Homo sapiens: one gene and its partner. The protein of the gene in region 1 purifies or fractionates together with the protein of each later gene. This does not show direct contact. Each region holds a gene or a part of one and is shown on either strand. Other genes may lie near its edges.

Evidence for each region.
Region 2: the proteins of DNAJB12 (region 1) and YME1L1 purify together in Homo sapiens (affinity purification with mass spectrometry, with the first as the bait; one large-scale study listed by BioGRID). This does not show direct contact.

Annotation. Positions count from the first base shown.
Region 1 is NC_000010.11:72,332,223-72,335,319, reverse strand, and holds the end of DNAJB12 (dnaJ homolog subfamily B member 12), read left to right. Parts: exon of another isoform or gene 1-702; coding exon of another isoform or gene 703-732; 3' UTR 733-2,457; downstream 2,458-3,097. UniProt on the Homo sapiens protein: Acts as a co-chaperone with HSPA8/Hsc70; required to promote protein folding and trafficking, prevent aggregation of client proteins, and promote unfolded proteins to endoplasmic reticulum-associated degradation (ERAD) pathway.
Region 2 is NC_000010.11:27,112,980-27,116,684, reverse strand, and holds part of YME1L1 (ATP-dependent zinc metalloprotease YME1L1), read left to right. Parts: intron 1-339; coding exon 340-466; intron 467-551; coding exon 552-625; intron 626-2,077; coding exon 2,078-2,164; intron 2,165-3,705. UniProt on the Homo sapiens protein: ATP-dependent metalloprotease that catalyzes the degradation of folded and unfolded proteins with a suitable degron sequence in the mitochondrial intermembrane region.

The DNA of each region.
Region 1 (3,097 bases):
GAATAGGTGGGCCAAGAGCCCTCCCCTTTCTCCATCCCTCCAGCTAGGAGGAAATGGAGCAAGATGAACAGGCAGCCACGAGGTGGGTGGGAGCTGGCAGTCTTGGTGGCGGCAGGGGCCGCGGGCCCTGACCACCCCCCTCTGGTGGGATCTGAGGCACTCTCTCGAATGCCGTCACACCTGGCAGCCTGGAAGCCACAGGCATCCGGCCTTGCCCAGGCATCTCGCCTGCGGTCTGAGGAAGGGAACAGAAGGTCATGAGTTCAGGGTCAGACGCAGCCGCTCAGCACAGGAGGGGTGGAGGGGAAATGAGAGTTGCTGGTAGCAGGCTCCCTCCTTCTGCAGCCCGGCGAATGGGGGCGCTGGGCTCTGTTCCCAGCGTTTGCCAGAGGTGGCCACTTCAGCCAAGCCCAGAGAAGTGTGGGCAGAAGCAGTGAAGGTTCTTCTCTGTGTGGGTGCCCTGCCCACCCCCTCCTTTGCCTGTGTCCTCCCGGCCTGGATCCATGGCTGACTCTGCCTGGAGGCCATTTGTGCCTGCCTCTGTGCTGCCGCAGGAGGGCAGGCCGCAAGTGGGGTTGGTGGGGGTCGAGCGGGCAGCACGGTGCAGCGGTGCAGTGGCAAGGGGGGCTACTTGTGTGGCATAAGCTAGAGGAGCCGGTGCCGCCTGAATGCCGAGCTAACTGTTGCCACTCTCCTCCCCAGACTATGAAATCCCTGGAGAATTTTTGGTGACATGCACTGAGCCAAGGTGATGGACTGTATATTTGAGGAAAGACAAACAAAGAAACAAAATTAAAATGGAATTGGAGGCCGAACGCTGCACAGCTGCCCTCTCTCTCACCCAGTAAATGCAGAAAGCTCTTAGGACAGACAGAAAACCTGCCATGGGGCTGCTTCCCTCCCTCGCAGGGCTGGCGGAGGCTCCGCATCGCCTCTCTCCTAGGATACAGAAACCATGGCAACGAAAGTAGAATGTAAAACTCGCAGCAGATATCAGTGGGAAGGGCTGGGGGAGGGGGCACCCAGCTGCCTTTCCTCCCTCACAGGAGCCACCACCAGCCACCTCTCAGGAGAAGCCAGAGGCCCTGGCCAAAGATAGGAGGAAGAAAGAGAACTCTCCATAGAATGTAATTTATAGATGCGTGTATATGTATATATATCTATTTATATGTAAATAGGCATATATGAAGATATATATATATATAGTCTACTTTTTAAACTCTGCAGGGATTTGGTTAAGTTGTTGAGCTGATTTCTTCCATGTTTTAGAAAATGAGGCCTGTTTGGGGAAGGTACCCTGGTGATGTTTTTGCTAGACATTAGCTGTAGCTGACAGCATAAGGAGAGTCGCATCAGAGCTTTTCACAGCCCCCCGAAACCCCAGCCTGGTTTTGATGGCAGCAGTAATCATGATAGTGTGAACCCGCGAAGGCCTCAGGATTATGGTTAACCTGGAGAGGAGCAGGCCATGGAGGCAGGTGCCAGGTCAGTATTGAGTCACAGTAGAGGCCCCACAAGGACCTGCTTGGGTGAGACCACCTCTCCCCTCTCAGCAGCGCTGGTGGGCTCTTTGTCCTGGTGCCCAGGAGCCCTCCAGCCCCCTGCCCACAGAAGGGAAGGCCTGCAGAGGGGGCCAGGATCTACCTAACCATTTCCCCACCCCTAAGTCCCTCAGTGGGCTTTGCCTTATAGGTGCCACAGGGCACAGCTCCATCATTGCCACTGGTTTTTCCTAAGTCATGCACCAAGGACTTCAGAAAGTTCTTCCTCCGAGTCAGTCAGTGGTGCCGGGACCCCAGGGCAGCCTCCTCGACTCCTGAAGAAAAGGCAGTGCCCGTGGCTGCCTCTGTCTTCACTCGCTGTTGATGTGACCGCCAGGCCTCCTCTCGTACCTTGGACAAAGGATACACCTGAACCAGAATAGTTTTCTTACCCTCACATTGAAATGAGGATTTTGCTTAAAACAGCACTTGCCGCCAGTGGGAGGAGGGAGGTTTTATTTATTCCCACAGTTTCTCCTGGGCCTTCTGGAATGACCATGTTTTCCTGTGGCGGTGGGTGTGTCATTGCGCCCGCCGTCTTCCAAAGCCTTACTTCCCCAAGCTGCCAGCCAGGAGGTGATAACCACCCTCCCAGAGTTTCTCTCGGCTCTTTTTTTAAAAGTCCCCCAACAAATAGGATTCTTGCTGGGAAAGGAAGTTCGGTAAGGAAATGTCAAATCTGGTTTTTAAACAAGGTCCAACCCTGCAATGAAGCAGCCACTTCAGCCCAGAGAGATTATAAGAACTGATGTGGCCAGAGTGCCTACCCACTGTGGCCCCGGTGCTCTGCCCCCACGCCCCGACCATCTGGTCTTGGTAGATGTCCCTAGACGGGCTGAGCCATGTGCAATAAGAACATAGATCCTAAAGGATCCTCTGGAAGCTGTATTTCTTGAATTAGAATTCTCAAATTGTACATCTGTTAATATATGTTTATTATGTGACTGGCCGTGGTGGGTCTGCATTGAGCAGGGAGGCCTAAGGGGTGGGGGGGAGGGGGCACAAGCCCCTGCTGCTGCTGACACTGTCCAGCCTGTGCCACAAGGAGCTCTAGATGATGAGCCTGAATTTCCCCCGACCCCTGGCCCTGGCTAACAGCCACTTAAGCCACACATGCTGTTCCAGAACTAACTCCATCCAGGCAGAGGGGTGCTCAGGTGACTGGGGGGCTGCAGGACCTGAGCAGTCTGGGTCCCTGGGGTCCCCAGCGCCAGTCCTGGCTGGGCATCTGGGCCACGACCATCACCCTCTGCTTTTCCCTCTCCCAATCCCTCCCCCCCACACCCTCAGGCCTGCCATGTGCCCGCAGAGCATTCGAAATTCCCGGCCCCAGCCTGGAGCTCGATCCCACTCAGGAGCCAGATCCTGGGAAAAGTGTTGCGAGTTTGTTTCCATCGTCCTTCCCACCATCCTCCCCCAAACCGCCCCCGCAGCCCGCCCTCCTCTCCAGGAGGTTGAAAAAGTTTAAAATGTGGCAGCCCAAGTCGGGTCGGGCTCCTGTGAATGGAGCGGCAGATCTGCCCAGGCCTCCCAGAGACAGGGCCCGGCAGCCCTGA
Region 2 (3,705 bases), about 45 Mb from region 1:
TTATTGTATTTTATTTTTGAGATGGAGTTTCACTCTTGTTGCCCAGGCTAGAGTGCAATGGCATGATCTCAGCTCACTGCAACCTCTGTCTCCTGGCTTCAAGTGAGTCTTCTGCCTTAGCCTCCCAAGTAGTTGGGATTATAGCCATGCACCACCATGCCTGCCTAATTTTGTATTTTTAGTAGAGACAGGATTTCTCCATGTTGGTCAGGCTGGTCTCGAACTCCCAACCTCAGGTGATCCACCCACCTCGCCTGCCAAAGTGCTGGGATTCAGGCGTGAGCCACCGCACCCAGCCTCTTTGCTTATTTTTTATCTGATTAATTTTTAATTGTCTAGGTGTCCCTGTTACCTGAGAATGACAGATGGAATGAAACTAGAGCCCAGCTGCTTGCACAAATGGATGTTAGTATGGGAGGAAGAGTGGCAGAGGAGCTTATATTTGGAACCGACCATATTACAACAGGTTAGCTTTAAAGAATGGCTTTAGTTCAAATTATATGTGGTCTTAAAGATATGTTTTAAAATGGTATGTTTTTATTTTATTTTAGGTGCTTCCAGTGATTTTGATAATGCCACTAAAATAGCAAAGCGGATGGTTACCAAATTTGGAATGAGTGAAAAGGTAATAGATTTTTTAAATCCTTTTCATGTATCAAATTATGTGTCAAGTGTTGATTTGAGAGCTGGTTCTGATTATAAATTGGTAATATTCACTTTTTCTCTCACTCCAAATGGATTTGAGGCTCTTTATTCTGAACATTGTTATTCTCTGAATAAAGAAAATGGACCTTCTCTTAGCTGCTGAGAATGAGCTGCCCAGATAGTAACTATTACTTCACGAGTTAATTAAGTGATAAAGCAAGGTGAATTCCTTAGCTTTTCCATGTGGCATGAAAGAGTCTACTTTCTAAGTTTGGTTACTTTACTGTTTCCCTCTATTTCATATTTTCATCTTGTCATTGTTCCTTGAAGCACTACTATACTCTGTGAATTATGGATTTCTATATTTGAAGTAGCTGCCAAGGTTTTTCAAGAAAGTACTGAGAACCAGACTTAAAATGATTTTAGGCTGGGCACTGTGGCTCACATCTGTAATCCCAGCACTTTGGGAGGCTGAGGAGACTGTATTGCTTGAGCCCAGGAGTGAGTTCTGGACCAGCCTGGGCAACATGGCACAACCCCATCTCTAAAAAAATACAAAAATTAGCCAGGTATGGTGGTGTGTGCCTGTAATCCCAGCTACTTGGGAGTCTGAGGTGGGAGGATTCTCTGAACCCAGGAGGTCGAGGCTACAGTGAGTCCACTGCACTCTACCCTGGGTGACAGAGCAAGACCCTGTCTCCAAAAAAAAAAAAAAAGATTTTAAATGTTCTGTCTTGCTCATACTTTTACTATTTTGATATTAGTGTTTTTTTGTTTCTTTGTTTTTGAGACGGAGTCTTGCTCTGTTGCCCAGGCTGTAGTGCAGTGGCGTGATGTTGGCTCACTGCAGCTACCGCCTCCCGGGTTCAAGCGATTCTCCTGCCTCAGCCTCCCAAGTAGCTGGGATTACAGTCACCTGCCACCATGCCTGGCTAAATGTTAGTCTTTATACTTTCAGAAGAATGTGGAAATTTCTTTGCCCTCAAATGCAGTTTTTATTTTTATTTTTTTTGGAGACGGAGTCTCGCTCTGTCACCTAGGCTGGAGTGCAGTGGCGCAATGTCAGCTTACTGCAACCACCGCCTCCTGGGTTCAAGCGATTCTCCTGCCTCAGCCTCCTGAGTAGCTGTGATTACAGGCACGTGCCGCTATGCCCAGCTATTTTTTGTGTTTTTAGAAGAAATGGCGTTTCTCCGTGTTTCCAGGCTGGTCTCGAACTCCTAACCTCAGGTGATCCACCCGCCTCGGCCTCCCAAAATCCTAGGATTACAGGTGTGAGCCACTGTGCCCGGCCTCAAATGCAGTTTTCTATTGTACTTCTTTCTTGTCCCCCATATATTTGTTTCCTTATATATAGGATAGTACTTTCTCTTTCAAATTTGTTGGTGTTTGGGGGTTTTCTGTTCAATTACTTTCTTCCTTTTGGTTTTAGCTTGGAGTTATGACCTACAGTGATACAGGGAAACTAAGTCCAGAAACCCAATCTGCCATCGAACAAGAAATAAGAATCCTTCTAAGGGTAATAATATTTTTTGTGCTTATTTATTTTCTTAGGAACAATGTGCTTAAATAGTCAGGTTCTTAAAAAATAACAGCTGAAGGCCCTCTGTTCACTAGAAACATCATTTTATAAAATAAAGATAATAGTCACCATGGTGTCTGGGGAAAAAATTAAAAAATAAAGATAATAGTTGCAGCATTTCAGCAATGATTTAAATGTTATTAAGGCACCTCTCTGTTCATGAACCTGGACACGGGCTAAGAACAGTTCTATATTGCATGGTTGTAAAAATTCAATTCTCAGGGTGAGGGACAAAATAACTACATATTAGGTATTAGGTACAGTGTACACTATGTAGGTATGGATACACTAAAATCCCAGACTTTACCACTATACAATTCATCCATGTAACCAAAACCACTTGTACCCCATAAGCTGTTGAAATAAAATCTATATATAAAATTTTATATGTATATAAAATTCAATTGTACTTTAGCTGCAAAACTGTAAGAGGTAATAGAATGGGAAGAGTATTGTTTATTGAGTCTTTGACATGTATTCAACAAATAAATTTTTTTTTTTTTTTTTATGGAGTCTCATTCTGCTGCCCAGGCTAGAGTGTAGTGGCATGATCTCGGCTCACTGCAACCTAAGAAATAAGTTTAGTAGGTGTTTTATTGTTGGTTTTTTGTGGGTTTTGTCATTTTTTTTTTAAGGGGATGGGTCTTGCTATATTGCCCAGGCTGGACTTGAACTCCTGGGCTCAAGTCAACCTCCCAAGTAGCTGGGGCTACAGGCACACACCACTATGCCTAGCTCTATGATTTCAGTTTTTTGTTTTTGTTTTTTCTTTTTTTTTTTTTTTTGAGACAGAGTTCTGCTCTTGTTGCCCAGGCTGGAGTGCAGTAGTGCTATCTCGGCTCATTGCAACTTCCGCCTTCTGGGTTCAAGTGATTCTCCTGCCTCAGCCTTCTGAGTAGCTGGGATTACAGGCGCGTGCCACCATGCCTGGCTAATTTTTTGTATTTTTAGTAGAGACAGGGTTTCACTATGTTGGCCAGGCTGATCTCAAACTCTTGACCTCAGGCGATCCACCCACCTCGGCCTCCCAAAGTGCTGGGATTACAGGCATGAGCCACTGCGCCCGGCCCAATTTCAGTATTATGTATGTTGAATTTGAGGCATCTTAGTTGGAAATAGATGTGGGAACTTAGTGGAGAGATTGGTTATGTATTGCATTTGAATGTTGAAGCTACCCATTCATGAAGGCAGGTCTTTTTTTTTTTTTTTTTTTTTTTTTTTTTTTTTTTTTTTTTTTTGAGACAGCATCTTGCCCTGTCACCCAGGCTGGAGTGCAGTGCTGTGATCTTGGCTCATTGCAACCTCTGTCTCCCAAGCTCAAGTGATCCTCCCACCTCAGCCTCCTGAGTAGCTGGGACTATAAGCGCATGCTGCCATGCCTAGCTAATTTTGTTATTTTTTGTAGAGAGCATTTCACTATGTTACCCAGGCTGGTGTCGAACTCCTGGGCTCAAACGATCCACCTGCCTTGGCCTCCC